2 separate regions of the Homo sapiens genome follow, and region 1 is linked to region 2. The links come from fine-mapping of genetic effects on gene expression. A gene starts in region 2. The other region holds a variant in brackets. All regions are shown on one strand. Distances are between the middles of the regions.

Region 1 (8,522 bases), 110 kb after region 2:
GTATAAAAGTAATACAGAGAACTTGTACTACTTGAGGTTTACCCCTTATAGCCAAGTAAAAGATCCTGCGGTCTTGGTAGGAGGAAAAAGAATAAGAAAGGAGAATTCCAGATTTGGGGGAGTATAGACTTACCAGTTGTTAAATAGTAGGAAAGAAAGGAGAAAGTGTTTTGTTGATTCAAATGCAAAAATTTTCACGTTACCACATTGGGAATTGGGATCTGCCTTGCTCTCTATAAGAACAGTAAAACTGACAGCATTTTTTTCTCTCTTGGAAGTAGCTAAAATAATCGGACATCATGGATTCAATTGAATGTGATATTTACTGGACTTTGTATAGTATCTTGCATAATACTTAAAACCTTATGAGGTTTATGTCATCCCCATTTTAGTAGTGATCATAATAGCTAACTAGCATTTACTGTATACAGGGCAGAAGAGCTTTACATATGTTAACATTAAGTATTCATAACTGCCCTATAAGACTTCAAGAAGTTAATTGATTTGCTCCCAATCACATTTCTCACCTTGAACCAGCATCTGAAGGCTTTAAAATCTTTACACTCTTTCATCACCCAGTGGTCTCAACTCTACCAATGCCTATTTTCATCACAAATATTTCTTAGCACCCTCTTACTACGCTAAGATGAAAGTCATAGTTAAGGAAACTTACTTATATACATTATTAAAAAGCATATTCCTAGTTTATGTATAATTATATGTGATACTCATTCACAACTCTAATATGAAGAAAGTAATTTATAATCAAATAATTTATATCTCATCAGATACACATACAGATGTAGCTACACAGAAGACATGCAGCAGCCAGATGCTTATACCTAGCAACAGGGGTCCCTGATGCCTGCGCCGTGGACCAGTACTGGTCCGTGGCCTGTTAGGAACTGAGCTGCACGGCAGGAGGTGAGCGGTAGGCAAATGAGTATTACTGCCTGAGCTCTGTCTCCTGTCAGATCAGCAGCGGTGTTAGATTCTCATGGGAGTGCACACCCTATTGTGAACTGCATGTGTGAGGGATCTAGCTTGCGCACTCCTTGTGAGAATCTAATGCCTGATGATCTGAGGTGGAACAGTTTCATCCTGAAACCACTCCCCTGCCCAGCCCTTCATGGAAAAATTGTCTTCCACAAAACTGGTCCCTGGTGCCAAAAAGGTTGGGGACTGCTAACCTAGAGTACCATTACTGAAAATGCCACAGCTACAATTCCAGACTTACCTACTAGGTAAGGTAGAACAAATTGGCCTTGACAGCTGGATTGGGGAATTGAGGTACAAATCACTGGATAGAGGCTCATAATACATTAATTGGTTTCAATGATTTTGAGACAAATAGGTATCTCTCAATTCTCCAAGAGAATTAGACTTTTAATGAGGTCTCATCCAGGAGGCCCATTCAGGAACAGCAGAGACATAGCCTCTAACTAGGGGCTCAGGACACAATCTCATTTCCCAGGGAGAGGGTCCAGCAAGTGCAGAAAGGATCAAAGCAGAAGCCCAGTCATGGGAACTAGATAATTTGGGGCATTAAAGATAAATTTGGGGCCAGGCATGGTGGCTCACACCTGTAATCCCAGCACTTTGGGAGGCCAAGGCAGGCAGATCACCTGAGGTCAGGAGTTTGAGACCACCCTGACCAACATGGAGAAACCCCTTGTCTACTAAAAATACAAAATTAGGTGGGCGTGGTGGTGCATGCCAGTAATCCGAGCTATTAGAGAGGCTGGGACAAGAGAATCGTGAGAAGCACTTGAACCCAGGAGGCGGAGGTTGCAGTGAGCCGAGATCGCGCCATTGCCCTCCAGCCTAGGCAACAGGGAAAGACTCTCTCAACAAAAAAAGAGAAAAAAAAAAGATAAATGTGGGGGTATCAAACAGCCCAAAGGGAACACACCTACCCAAGATAGCTGGCAGCAAAAGGGACTTGAGACACAAATTATGGCTACAAATCCAGGAAACAGATACGCAGCTTTCTCATGTAACAGTATCATTTAATCATTTAAGGGTTATGATAACTTGGGTTAAAATTCAATTTCTCCATCTGCAAAACAAGATTTATAATATTATATCCCTAGCAGAGTTCCTTGAAGATTAAGAGTTAAGCATTTATCATGGTTCCTATCAAGTTTCCTATGTATAAGTGGAAATTATTATTTTTAATAATTCGTACTATTTATTCACCTATTTTCTGAACCAGATAGGAAGTCCTGCTCACTTTTGTTAAAAATGGTGTTTGTGCCTTTACAGTATACAAATTTCAGTTCAGAACCTGAAGAAACCACTAAGTTCTAAACCTCGCTCTGCCCACCATTAATCTCCACTCTCTCTCATCCCATTCCCCTCCCTACTCCTCACCTCTGCATTCCTAAATTGTCTTTTTTGGAAGCTTTGGTTGCAGATTATTTAGGATGAAGAAGAGTGCGTCTTGTAAATTTGCTTCTAAAACCCAGTCACATATGTGCTATGTTCTGCCTTTAAACTGCCCATTTCTCAGATGTGCCTGTCCTCTAAGTTCCAGTTTTCATGTCCCACAGACGACGTTCTGTCCATGGTTCAGAAACTCATGGAAATGTCTCTGTGCTGACTGAGTTATGACTTCTCTGTGTCAAATGTGATGGCCAGTGACACATCTGCTATAGGGTCTGTGGGGTGGATAAGTGTCAGCGTTTCATCTGGAGAATTAGATTTTCGAGAAGATTAAACCTATCTTCACTTTTCAATGCCGTCCATAGTATTTTCTTCAGGTGCTTACTAAATGGTCATTTGAAAAAGAGGAATAGCAAGGAAACTCTGACTCCATGAACTTGAGTCTTTGCCTCCACTTCAGCTGGGACATTTTGAATTTTTTATACCATGGTTATGATGGCATTGTGATTGTTGATAATAAGGATTTTCTTTGGGTAAAAGTACACATTTAAAATTGCCATCATAACTAGCGCAACCCAGGAGAGAAGTTGCTCTGTGCTTTGTAAGACTCCTCTACTGCAGTCCAAGGATGCAGCTTCTATATAGCCCAGATGGTTGGGGGAAGCCACAGTACATTTATGACTACTAGCTATCCAATTTCTGCCTTTTCAAGGAATTAAAATTCAGATAGCCCTTAAAAGGAGTTTCATCATCTATACGGGAGGTTATCTAACAAAAATGCTATTTCTGTTTGAAAGAAACTATGTAAAAATTACAATTAACGATTACAAAGAACAACTTTATAACTTAAATATTATCTAACTTAAATATTACTAAAGAAAGTGGGGCATTTTACCCCTCACAGAGCAAGGTGAGTGGCCAATTTGTGATCTGCAAAAAAAAAGATTTGACGCAGGGATACTGTAGCTATCTTTTTCCATTTACTGATGGGATGGAAAAAGTGGATGTAAAGGCTTGCCTTTGGCAGTAAAGTTGACCCTTGAACAACATGGGGGCAGGGGTGCCCACCCCCCTGCAGTTGAAAGTCCACATACACCTTTTGACTCCTCGAAAACTTAACCACT[A/T]ATAGCATACTCTTGACCTGAAGCCTTACAGATAACATAAACAGTCAACTAAGACATATTTTGTATGTCATATGTATTATAGATTGTATTCTTAACAATAAATTAAGCTAGAGAGAAGAAAGTGTTAAAAAATTAGGAGGAAGAGAAAACATATTTACTATTCACTAAGTGGAAGTGGATCATCATAAATGTCTTTGTGCTTGTCATCTTCAAGTAGACTTCAAGTATCTTTGAGTAGACTGAGGAGTAGGAGGAAGAGGATTGATTGATCTTACTGTCTCAGGGGTGGCAGAGGTGGAAGAAAATCTGCGTATAACTGACCATGCAATTCAAATTCATGTTGTTCAAGGGTCAGTTGTATATATTTTAAGCCTTTACAATAGAATTGCATGTACTTAGTCTCATGAAACCCCAAGTGCCTTGGCTGTGCTGCTGCTAGACTGTGTGGTTCACAGTACAAAGATAAAGATGCTCCTTCCTCCAGGCAGATTCAGCCCCATGATAGGGGGAATGGTGGGGTAAGTCAAACAAAATCTGTTTTTAGCCCCACTTGCCCTTTCAACTCTTCTTAGTCATCTTGTGGCTTAGTACTACAAACTTCCACAGTCTTCCAACTGATAAGATATAGGAAAATGGGCAAAAAGTGATCAACATGAAAAAAAACTATGTAACATACATCACATGTAACATACATCACGTTACAGGGGGCTGTAAGAGATGGGTTTTCCTTCTCACAATGATTTGGTGCTCACAAGAGCCATTCCATTGAGGACATCCAGCATGGCAAAATGGAATAAAGTTTTAGTAATCTCATTGTGCAGCAGATTGTTAAAGAAAAAAATGGTTCAATGTTACTTGTTAAAGCATGGTAAGGCAGACTTTATTCATTACCATTGAGATAGTATAGGGACCATGGCAATGGGATTTTGCAGTAGTGGGGAGAAAATAGTCTTAACTGCAGAGTATGGGCAAGTGGGAATTTATAGCCGAGGAGCAAGGTGGGTCAAGGAGTCAGTGGATGAAAAAATACTAAGAGGAAGCATCAAGGGTAAGGAGGATTCTAATCTAACAGAACCTAATAGAATTCTCGCTGAAGACAAGCCAGACACTACCAGGGAGGGAGATAGTGACTTTTGAGGTGGGGATTCTTGCTAAACTGACTTAGCAGAGCTCTTTACTAAAACTGGATTTTACCAAAAAGTCTGCAGGTGGGCATAAGAGAAAGCCCAGAAGCCTAACTAAATTTTGGCCAAGGAAAGAATCTGTCAAGGTGAATGCAGAGTTTGAACCGGAAATTAGGGCTACAGAAGCAAGTATTCCTGTGTGAGCCTCCCACCACTGCACACTGCACACTGCACACTGCACCCTGCAGGGAAAGCATCAAAATGAGCACTGAAGTCAGATGGCTGCTGAAATCTGTCCCTATCGCCCCATTCAAGAGCCTTAGATGTTCTCTGTGCGTCCTGGCTACACTGCAGCAGCAGCAGCATAGTTCTGAAAGCCTCTAAACATAATCCAGTTAGCCACACAGTATCTGTGTAGCTCTAGTAATTTTCAAAGTCTGCTCTCAAACCTCCAGCAGGTCTCCACCAGTAAAGTTCTACTACTGGTCCCAGTAGAGCGGTCACGGATCATTCAATCAGCTCAGTCACCTCTCAGATCTTCCTAAGGCTACAGAGGAGAAATCAATGTGCTTCACAATGTGTAGATAACAAACTTGTCCACTGTAAGATCCTGAAAATTTTATTCAAAGAGATAAATAGGAAAAGAAATTTCTATTCTGTCATGTCTGGTCAAGACTTGTCCAGATTCTTCTTTCTGTGTGTCTAAAATGTCCTAGAGCTCAAAATTCTTCTAGATCTCTGCTATTTTAGGATAAATAACTTCTAGTGAATTTCTGTAAACTAGATGGTGCGCTTATTTTAAATTGCATGAAAAAAGTATTCAGTGTGTGGGCATTTTTTTTAAAGGGAGAATGCGTGTGGAAAGGTACACTAATGCCTAGAAATTCAGAACACATCCAGTCAGCTCAGTGGCACAGCAAATTGTGCCACTCTCTATGCCAGCTTTTTTATTATCATTGCTATTCCACCCTCTTTGCGTTTTAAAAATCTTCAGAGGAAGACCTATTTTTAATGATTTGCTTTTCTTCCCTAAGCTTTCCACAGATTAAACTCTGCATCCTGTTTGCTTTGCTGTGTTCAAGCTTCTCCAGGATTTTTACAATAACTTCTAAGGAAAAATACCTCAGAGATGCATTTTCTTAGAAGGGTGGTCAGACGTTTTGAATATTCTGCATTTTATTTTCTTTAACAGGAAATACATCCAAGCCTGTATTTTAAATATTAAAATAACCACTCGTTTAACTTTGTGACTAGCTTTCATTTTCCCAAAGTAGGAAAAAAATATTATTTATATAACCTCCCTCTTTGTGTTTCTGAAATACTTCAGAAACTCTTGTGTCTTATCTCCCAACATTGTTCAACATAAAGAGAAATAACCTTAGTTACAGTTGAAATCATTAGAGATTCTTAAGTTTCTGGTAATTTTAATTAGGTTCGCTATCATCTATTACTGTCGTATAGATATTTTACATGATTGCTTAAAAAGAAATGACAAAAGCAAATATAAAAACCTGAATGTAAATTATTTTACCCATAATTGGTCTAAAGAAACATCCTGGATCAGCCCAGTATTTGATTACATTGATATGCACAGGAGACAGGGAAATACAGGTTCGCTGGTAAAGGCCCCACCTTCAAGCCTGAAAATCTATAGCCCTAAGTGAGAAGAGGCATTCCTGTTTTTTGCACCTAAAAAGTTCCCTTTTGGCCTGCCATGCCCCTTATTGTGTACCATATAAACCCCAAATTCCAGGCTCCAGAGAGAGACAGGCAGATGAACGGCAGAACAGCATGGCAGAGAAGGAGAGAAGAGGAGCATCTGAACGTCGAGAGGCTGGGGACGACTGGAGAGGAGATCGGCTGCTGGACAGCCAAACTCCAGGAGAATATCATCTTCCCACTCCATCCCCCTTCCAGCTCCCCATCCATCCCACTGAGAGCCACCTCCACCACTCCATAAAACTCCCACATTCATCCTTCAAGTCCATGTGTAACCTGATTCTTCCTGGATGCCAGACAAGGACCTGGGTACCAAGAAGAAACTGAGCTGGTTAACGCTTAAGCTGCAGACAGCAAAGCTGAAAGAGTGCACTGTAACACATGCCCACTTGGGCTTTCAGGAGTTGCAGGCACCCACCTCTAGACAGTACCACGGGGCCAGAGCCCAAAGAGCTCGCCCAGCTCCTGCACCTTCCTGCCTGTGTGCTCCCCCTCCTATGAGGGGTTTGAGCTCATGGTGGCGCAGCAGAGAGCCACCCCACTGTCACACATCCTGCGAGGGGGGCCAGAGAACTCTCCCATCTCAACATGTACACAAGCTTTTTATTTCTCTGGGGCATTTTTGTAATAGGAAGAATTGAGACCCTCCCAGGTGCCACTTCCTACATGTCAGTCCCTTTGTGTTTTATTTTTCTCCAATACTGGCAGACTAAACAGAATTCTGCCTTACACTAAAGCTCAAACACATTCTCATCCCATCAAGAACGCACTGAGTACTTACTATGAGTAGAGAAGGTAATTTCCATTTTCAATTATTCCTGTAAAAAAAAATTACCACTTATAAGAAAGTTTACTCTTGTGTTGTATAGTAACTCAACACACTTCCCTTTCCACTTCATTTCTCCTGGATCTCCTATAAAAAGCTGAGTGATGAACAGAAAAGACCCTGGGTCTATTTGTGTTCTGTGTGTGCCCCTTTTACTGTGACTTGTGCATTTCCTTTGTTAGTCAGGGGACTTTGTCAGATTTAATTTATGAAGGTTCGGAGATTAACTAACGGGAAACAGAACAACAGGTAACTGAGAGTTTTGGACTCAAGCCTTCTCAGAAAAAGAGAAATGTATTAAAGCAAGCAAGCAAGCAAACAGACAAACAAAATTGGATGGAAGGGAGAGGAAAGAGATGAAGAATGATAGAGAAACACATATGGAATTGCATGAATTAAAATTTAGAGCAGCAGAAAGAGTGCTGGGGAAAAAAAATGGTAGAGCCCAAGGAAGAAGACCAGGCAATCAGGGAGTCAAGGGGTTGCCTGCAATTCACACAATACTTGTGAACTTTTAAACAAGTGACTGTGGGAGATTGCTGGTGACTCATGGTGGTAGAGACAATCAAGAAACAGGGTTGGCAAGAGTGCAAGGAGAGGCCCTTGATGACAGCCCCAGTGACCTTGCTGCACCCTACATTTGACCTCAGTTGGAGTTTGGGACTGTGGAACAACACTGCTGAACTTTATATGTAGAATAACCCACACCCCAGTTTGCTTGAGATAGTGCTGAAGTATGCATCTGATATAACATTCTAGCATTCTTAAAAGTGTATTGATTATGGCCAGGCATGGTGGCTCTTGCCTGAGATCCCAGCATTTTGGGGGACCTTGGAGGGAGGATCTCTCTAGCCAAGGAGTTCAAGACCAGCTTGGGCAACATAGGGTGACCCTGTCTCTACAAAGAATTAAAAAGTTAGCTGGACATGGTGGCACACACCTGTGGGCTCAGCTATGTGGGAGGCTGAGGTGGGAGGATTGCTTGAGCCTGGAAGTTCAAACCTGCAGTGAACCGTGGTCATGCCACTCCACTCCAGCCAGGGTGAGACAGCGAGAACCTGTCGCAAAAAAATGATAATAGGTGTGTTGATTATGGTCAGCTTGTGTATACCAATTCTGTAACACTATTCTTATTCTTATAACTTTGTTGAGTGAGTCATGATTTTAAAACAATCACTTGATAAATAAATATTAACTTCAAATCATGTGTCAAGCACTGGGTGTGAAAATAGAATCTAAAGTTAAAATGATACATTCTGTGCTTTTGTAGAGCTTCCATTCTAGGGTGGAAATACACAAGTGAACCTCTGGTGAGAATGTTTTACATACTGTGCAGGTTTCTGA
Region 2 (8,522 bases):
GCCTGAAGGAGGGTTTGTCATTCATGCAAGTTTCCCCCTTTACACTTCCAGATTCTAATTGCAATTATGCAATTACACAAATTATTGAGGTAGAACATTAAATAGAAATCACTTGAATAACTTTTACTCTCTTTGGTTTTCAGGTAGAGCTTGTAAAAAAGTTAGTTCAAATCAAGTTGGAAAAAAATAATTAAGTTGGATGGCTAAGGCTTTTATAGAACCAGGAATATATCCAAGATACTTATAGTCTACTTGGGAATCTAAGTTAGAAACATGAAAAAGATTAATTAAAAAAACACCTAAAAGTCAAGCTGAATACCATTGACATGTTTTGATTTGAATTAAGAAGAGGATTGGTTGGAAGTAAAATTCAGGTTGATCCTTAAACAGTATGACAAGAAAAAATTATTTCTATTAAGAAAACAAACTATTTGTTTCTAACTGTCCCACCAGCCACATTCCAAGGACAGCGGATTCAGGTTGTTGGAGATTCTTTTCTTTCCTGGCCTTAGACATATTTAAAATGAGGACTGAGGAATCAGTGAGGGAATACAAGATTTCTATGCATAAGAAAGGCAGAAGGAGCTCAGAGAGCAGCTCCAGGGAACTGAGAACTGGAACCAGAGCTATAGAGGGCTCTGTGGGGTAAGGGCTGGGAGGCAGAGAGATGTAGGGAGGGTGCCTGGGACATGCAGTGTGCTCTCAGTAAATTCATTTGTGTGTTTAATATTTACTGAGTACCTAGTATGTTCTAGGCACTGTGTTATGTGCTAGAAATATGGCAGGAAAGAAAGAAATGAAGGAAGGAAGCCCTGTTTTCAGGGAGCTGATGTTCTAGCTGTGGGACAGAGATGCTGAACAAATATGTGCATTGGTGTTAAGCAAAATAAGGCAAAGTCAAAAGACAGGAAGAGGCAGGTAAGGTGCTGTTTTAGACAGTGTTTTCAGGGGAGCTGTCTCTGATAAATTGCATTCAAGTAGAATTTTCAAAATATAATTATAACTCTCATGCAAATATAAAATGAACACATTAGTTAATGAGGAAACTAAAAAGACATTAAGACTGTTCAAAGAGCATTTGTGTAGCTACATACTTACAAGCAATTTTATAAAGAAATACAGTAAGATTACTAGATTAGATTTTAAAATGAGAAATGCTCTCTAGTGCAATAAGAATAAACTTTGGGGTTAACTTTTCCACTGGACAGAAAGATTTGCATCTTTGTTGGACAAAAATATACAAGTTAGCCTGTGATTTCAATGCCCCAAATCTTTAAGAGTCTGAACAGGTGACATTTGTTCAGAGACCTGAGTGACATCAAGAGCAAATAGGTGAGTAGATGAAGAGTGAAGAGGGGAAGGACTGAGTGTCAAACTCCCTCCCATCTCTCTCCTACTCCATTCACTGCAAAATATTCCCTTCTCATTGATATTTGGAGGAGTGGGTTTACCTTGGGGAAATGAAAGGAAATACAGAGTCCTCTAGGCTGATGAATGATTATAGAGGATACCCTGGAGCTCAGCACATCTGGACATAAGATTAGGGAGCAAGGAACAGGGTGGGAAGGCCAGCAAAGACTCAGAGGTGAGGACACTGGGAAGAGGGTGGGCCAGCAAGTAGCTGTGTTGACTGCAGAAGATTTCACGTACTGGTTGAAGGGACTCATCTCTACTCCTCCTGTAAAAGGAGGAAAAACATAGTTATGAACTCTCGAGGGATAGTGTGAAAGGCAAGAGAATCCTTCTGTCTTTCAAATCGACATCCTCAGCATGTTCTCCCGCTGTCTCCTGGTGCTTGGGTGGCTGCTGCTGTTACACCCACAGCCATTTCCTTTAATAGGGAGGAAAAACCTTTCCTAATCCACTGTCTATCTTCCTCCCAACTTCTGCTATGTCTCACCGGCCAGAACTTGTGACCACCCTAGCGGGAAAGTAGGCTCAGAAAGTGATCTTTTTGATTTCTTAACTTCTTTATCGAAGGTGAACAAGGGAGAAGGGGGTGAGGAGTGGGAATGGATGTTGGAGCTAGTAAACCTAGGGTCTATGTGTTGTATTTCTTTTCTAATTCGGTCTCGAGGTCTCTCTCTGGGAGTGGTTATAAACGTTAGCTCTTCCGTGATGGGGCTTGGATATTTACAGTGTGCCTTCCATGGAATACTTCTTTATCCTGGCAGACGGCCTAAATCCTAGGTGTCTGACCCATGACAGGAGGTCCCTCTCACAGGAAGCTTGTTTATATTAGCAGGCACATTTGTGGCTCTTGTCTGCCCCGTGTCTGGTTTATTCCAACCAAGACAGCCACTCTCTAGGAGAGCCCTAACCAGGAAACAAGTCAGGTGTGGGTGTATAGGTCAGGTGAGACACAGAGGAGGTGAACAAAACATGTGAAATAATAGAAGCAGTTTCATTACTTACAGATCCATAATAAGAGGACAGCATGCCTCACAGGGCCAATGAGAAGGGGGACACACATGCTCAACCAGTGGGAGGGGGACGAGACAGAGAGAGGGACTTGCGGGCCAAAGCCTTCACTGTGGTCCTGGGTCCAACATCTTAGTCCCACTGTGACTAAGAGGTGGTCACTGAGGCATATCTGCAAAGTATATGTGGGGTATAGGGGTCAAGGGGATGAAGCAAGCAGCTTGTACCTGATGGTTCGATAGGGAGGTGGTCACCAGAGGCGGTCATACAAGGCAGATGTCTGGACTGACCACATAGAGGAAGTGGGAGGAGGCACAGAACTAGAGACTGTCCAGGGTGACTAAGCCCTGCTTCTAGTTTGAGAAGGTTAAACCTGTCCTCAGAATGGATAGTGAGGCCTTTGATATGTTCTCCCACCTCTTCATCAAGCATATTGACAAATCCTTTTTCACCAACTTGTCTTGCTATAACCGCCCAGTAGGTTCACCTTGCCGTCTGCCTAGATAGAGCCAATTTATCAAGACGGGGAATTGCAATAGACAAAGAATTCATGCAGAGCTGGCTGTGTGGGGGGCCAGAGTTTTATTATTACTCAAATCAGTCTCCTCCAGCAGTCGAGTTTTTAAAGACAATTTGGTGGGTGGGGAGGGGCAGTAAGTCAGGGAGTGCTGATTGGTTGGGTCGGAGATGAAACTATGGGGCATCACTGTCTTCTTGAACTGAGTCAGTTCTGGGTGGGGGTCACAAGATCAGATGGGCCAGTTTATCATCTGGGTGTTGCCAGCTGATCCATCAAGTGCAGGGTCTGCAAAACATCTGAAGCACTGATCTCAGGAGCAGTTTAGGGAGGGTCAGAATCTTGTGGCCTCCAGCTGCATGACTCCCAAACCATAATTTCTAATCTTGTGGCTAATGTTGGTAGTCTAGACCCCAGGCAAGAAGGAGGTTGGTTTTGGGAAAGGGCTTTTATTGTTTTTGTTTTAAACTGTAAATTATAAACTAATTTCCTTCCAAAGTTAGTTCAGCCTATGCCCAGGAATGAACAAGGATAGCATGGAGGTTAAGGACAAGATGGAGTTGGTTAAATTGGATCTCTTTAACTGCCTTAGTCATAATTTTGCAAAGGCAGTTTCATTGCTACCTGAATGATTTTCCTAACTTATCCATCAATCTCCTGGAAGCCTTTCTCCTTAACCAATGTCTTCAACTCTGCCAGACATGTGGCAGCTTCTTCATCAGCAGATGTGGCCTCTCCAGTTATTTTTATGTTTTTCAGTCCAAACCTATTCCTGAATCTGTGTAGCCATCCCTTACTTGCAGTAAATAGCTTGGTGTGCCTAATTTCAGGGGATCCCTTTCTTAAGTCTTCCTATAGGCTCAACACTTTCTGGCAAAACTTACTGCGGTCAGCTGAAATACGTTTTCTGTTCATGTCTCCCACCCACAAATGTAATGCCTTTTCCGTCTTTTGCTGTTGCACCTCAAACTACAAAAGTTACAGCCACAGTGCATGATAGGTGCTTAGTTAACTAGCACGAATCTTTTTCCTTCTTCACAATTTCATGGATAATTTGTTCTTATCATAGATTTTGGCAACCTCAGCATATGACTCTTTTTCTTTCCTTATTAAGTCCAGAGCTTTCACCTTTTCATTTAAAGGAAGCACTTTACAGCTTCTCCTCGGCATATCCAAATTGTCAGCACAATTCCTGTGCTTTGCGGCCATTATTAAGTAAAATAAGGGTTACCTGAACATAAGCAGGTGGTATCTCTCATTATCTCTGCTATACTACGGGTGCATCTGTTAACCAAAGCAGCTACTGAGTGGGTAATGAGTGGATACTGTACACAGCGCGGCTACCTGCGACAGATGATTCGCGTCAAGGGTGGGACAGAGTGGATGGCCCGAGATTTAATCGGGCTACTCAGAATACAGGCGGTTTGAAACTTAAGAATTGTTTATTTCTGGAGTTTTCCATTTAACATTTCTGAACCAAGGTTTGACCACAGGTAACTGACACTGCAGAAAGCATGGAGGGGGGCAAAACTACTGCATTAATATTAAAATTTTCAAATATTACTTTTTGCTAAATGAAATGTGATTCAGGACCTTCCCTCTCAAAGATCAAGCGAGATCACCACGACCTCCGCCAGCAGCGGCTCTGCACGACTCCACCCTCGCAGCCCAGCCAATCAAAGCTACAGGTTGAGTGACGTCACTCTCCTGAAAGTCCTCGCTAATTCCCGTACTCCTTTTCTCCGCCCTGCACCTCTACTGTTTGCTACAAGTGGCCAGCAGCCATTTTGGATTTGGGCGGAAATGAAATTAAAACTGTGCTGTTAAAAGCCTAAAAATTCAAGTCAAGACAAACTTAAGCATTCGACCAACACATCTAGAAAGGGGGCATCTTCGTGGACTAACTAGACCACTGGGGCAGTGAGTGAAACTCGGTATCGTCGCGGCGCCCACACTTAAGATGGCACCGGCCTGAGACTCAGCTGTGCGGCCTCTCTACCTCGGTTCCTGGTTAGTTGGCCTCATTGGTGGCGTCGGAGGGAGGAAGGTGGGCCTTCTGTCCCGTTTCCGGACCCGTCTCTATGGTGTAGGAGAAACCCGGCCCCCAGAAGATTGTGGGTGTAGTGGCCACAGCCTTACAGGCAGGCAGGGGTGGTTGGTGTCAACAGGGGGGCCAACAGGGTACCAGAGCCAAGACCCTCGGCCTCCTCCCCCGCCGCCTTCCTGCAGGTAACAGGGAGCCCTGCGCTGCGCCCCCAGTCCTTGCAGGACTGCGCCGTGGGGGAAGGGGCCGGGCGGGGAGGAGGCGGCGGGCGCGCGCCCCGCTCGCGGGTCTGCGCTCTGGGGCCCGCGCGGGAGCGAGCTCGGCGCGGCGCCGGCGGCCGGTTGAGCTGTGCTCTCAGCTTCGGAGCAGCCTCCCCTTGCTGATTGTGGGGCGCCCTGTAATCTGCGCTTCGCGGGCGGCCCCCGACGGGTGAGGCGCCCGCGGCCAGAGCTCTCCAAGGCGGCCGCGGAGTCGGTCCTCGCAGGGAGGTGTGGAAGGTGAGGGGCCAGCGAAGCGAGAGCGGCGCCTCGGCCCTTCAGTGACCCCGCGGGGTCGCGGCAAGCAGGGCGAGGGTGCTCGGCTGGGCGGGTCACTGTCCCGGGGCGGCAGTGCCCGAGCCCGGGGGGATCCTGGGGGCGCGCCCGCCCTCGGGAAGGCGGCCTCATTCTTGATCCAAGACCAGTGCCCGTCCCCCAAGGCCCAGCTGGCTCCTGTCTTGGCATAGTGCTTTCTGTTTAGAATAAAGATGAAACATTTCTCGGAAGAGCATATTCAGGAATCCATGTGAAATTCTCGGAGTCGGGTCTCGAATTTTGGGGGTCACTGTTAACTGCTGTTTTTAGGGACCCATGTTCTTATAAAATGTATCTTGAGCTGAAATCACAATTATTTTGGTCCATAAAGACTTAATTGTGTATTGCTTGTCAGCTAGCAATGCTGGACTGAGTTCCGCAGAGGGAATATATACCTGAAACACGAAAGCAAGGGCCGGAGTAACGTTACCGCTGGATACCAGAATATCAGCCAGTACAGTGCATCCTTAATACTCAGAGTGCAAGCCATTATCTTTGGAACTTTCAAGCTAAGGGAGCTAGGACCAAGGTAGTCTCGAGTAATTGCTGGGAAAAGAAAATATTTGGTAGAAACATTTCCATAGAGCACACGGGTTTCTTAGTTGAGTGTATGAGTTGCCCTTTGACCTAGACAAGGGTTTTCTTAATCTACAAGCGGTCCAGAAATTTTATGTGCTGCCCAAGTAGGCAAAAGAGTGGAGGGAGATTATTAAAGGGAAGACTGATGCATATTCAAGTCAGAGACTGTCAACTCAGCATTTTATTATAGAGTGGAGATGCTAAGTGCTACGAAATACCTATTACGGGATACTAGGATATCCTTTTCTACCTTCTTGTGACTTTTTAATTTCAAAGCTAATGAGCAAGATTTTGTGTTTTCCCCGTCCTCAAAACAACAGGAAAGCATTTTGGAAGGCCAAGTGTTTTTCTTACATTTCAATAAATCAATTTTAGCTGAATTATCATTTTTAAAGCACTGGCGGGCATGGTGGCACATGCCTGTAATCTCAGCAACTAGGGAGGCTGGGGAGGGCAGGTAGCTTGAGCCCAGGAATTCCAGGTTACAGTGAGATAGGATAGCGCCAATGCACTCTAGGCCAGCAGCAACAGAACAAGACCATATCTCTATTTAAAACAAAAAACAAACAAAAAAACTTCTTCATATAACAGTATTTGTGCTTCTTTAGATATATTAGTGTGAAGAATTACTGCTTCAAAACATTCTCAAATTGCAATAATCAGCACACCTTTTTAATTTTCCCCCAATAAAGTTTGCACTGGGAACATACAATATAATCTTACCACTGTCAGTATTACACTGATGGTATCAGTGGACTTCTGTCAAAGTTAACATGCTTTCAAAACAAGAAAATGGCATCCTTTCCAGTTCTCTCAAGAAATTGAGTCATCCCTTTTTAATTTTTAAGTGATTTTTTTAGTCTTAGACCTAAAATACAGTAAGAAAAATGAATTTTAACTACTTCCTAATGCTTTTATAACTTTGTTAATTATAGTGGAATTCATATGAAATCTAAGGTTAATAGCTATTGCAAGGCCAATGTTCCCACAAGGAAGTATTTTGCTATTTAGAAATAGCTAAGTAAATTAAATGTTCCTTTCTCTTGCCTCTGGTGACTGCCATTCATCAGCCAGAGCACTGACCCTGAATCCTGGTGGCAGTCTTATCTCCCATGAGGATTAATATTAACACTTAAATAAACAGCATGATTTCCTGCGAAGAAGATATTCATTAATATACAGTCCCTTATTCTCTGCTTTTCTCTTAATTGTGTGTTGATTTTGGAAAGCTGTGTTTTGTGGGTGAGAGAGAGACGGTCAGACTAGCTTCAGATACTTTCAAAGTAACACTTCTGTAACTCACTCTTCCAGTCTGACTGGCTTTTCAGGCAGGAGTTGGAGACCAAGTAGAGCTTTCTGCCTATGAAATGGCAATTAGTTTCAAAGAACATAGACCCATTCAAGTTACCTGAGGAAAAGGGGGCTGGTTGTAAGGGTGTCAATGGGATGTTAGGGTATCTGGGTGGAATTAGATTTGAGGCTGGGCTTCCGGTAGTCTTGAGATGGATAGTAGTAATGTGCCCCCTAAGTATGACTAAGCTACGGTCCCAGTGTTTGCTTTTTAAAATTTTACTACCAACTGACTTCCTCTGGAAAGTTTCTGACTTCATGTGGCTTTGGTTTGCCGTAGCTCCACCTCCACCTCATAGCATCCTTCTACCTTCGGCTATGCTTCTAATAGGCAAAAATTGTTCTTAGTTCAAATTCCTGGGGGAGACAATGATCTGGCCAGTTTATCTCTTCACTCAGGCCATGAAATTGATGGCTAATTTGTGAATTAACCGCCCTTTGGCCCAGGATAGGTACCTGCCAACATTAACTGTGCCCAAGAAGAGGTGGCAAGATCAAGTGCTAAGCATAATCCTCCCTACTCAGCAGGAGGTTGTGACAATCTGGCCAGCACTCTATCTCCAGAACAGAGGGATTAGCATTGTTGCTTTTACCCATGGTCCCACATAAACTTTTTATTTGTAGTCCCAGTAGAAAGGTGAATGTTACCATAGTTGCCATACTTGGCATTTCTTTTAGTACTGTTTTTTGCTTCTCTGTCATTTTTAAGAAAGATACATTGCCAGGTAGGTAGGAATTCAGTGAATTTGTTACAAAGCAGATTTAGTTCTTATTCTCAGCAACATTTTTAGATTTTGAAAATCTTCAATTTTAGATAGCTTTAGCCTTTATACATGTGTTTCTTATATAACGATGGTTGTGGATCGGTAGGCACTTTAAATTTTGTTCTAGGCATGTGTTTTGAGCAGCATTACATACCCAGTGTAGAAGGTGTTGTATGGAATTTCACCGAAGTGGGGAAAAATTCCAAGTAGAGGGTCAATGTGTAATGATTATTGAGTTTATATTTGTCCAAAGAATACAGATTTTAAACAAATTT

What was found.
Region 1: its variant is fine-mapped to the expression of SCYL3 in whole blood (TOPMed, PIP 0.94).

The regions. Positions count from the first base shown.
Region 1 is chr1:169,783,525-169,792,046 of GRCh38, reverse strand. It overlaps a transcript of FIRRM not described here. Among named protein-coding and RNA genes, the nearest start is that of METTL18, 7.1 kb to the left of the region's middle. The variant A/T (reference allele first, on the strand shown) is at 3,510.
Region 2 is chr1:169,890,433-169,898,954 of GRCh38, reverse strand. SCYL3 (SCY1 like pseudokinase 3) reads left to right here and starts at 5,059. Exons shown (of 13, transcript NM_020423.7): 1 at 5,059-5,167. RefSeq lists enhancers at 4,632-5,041, 4,716-5,303, 5,304-5,891 and silencers at 5,242-5,321, 5,562-5,621.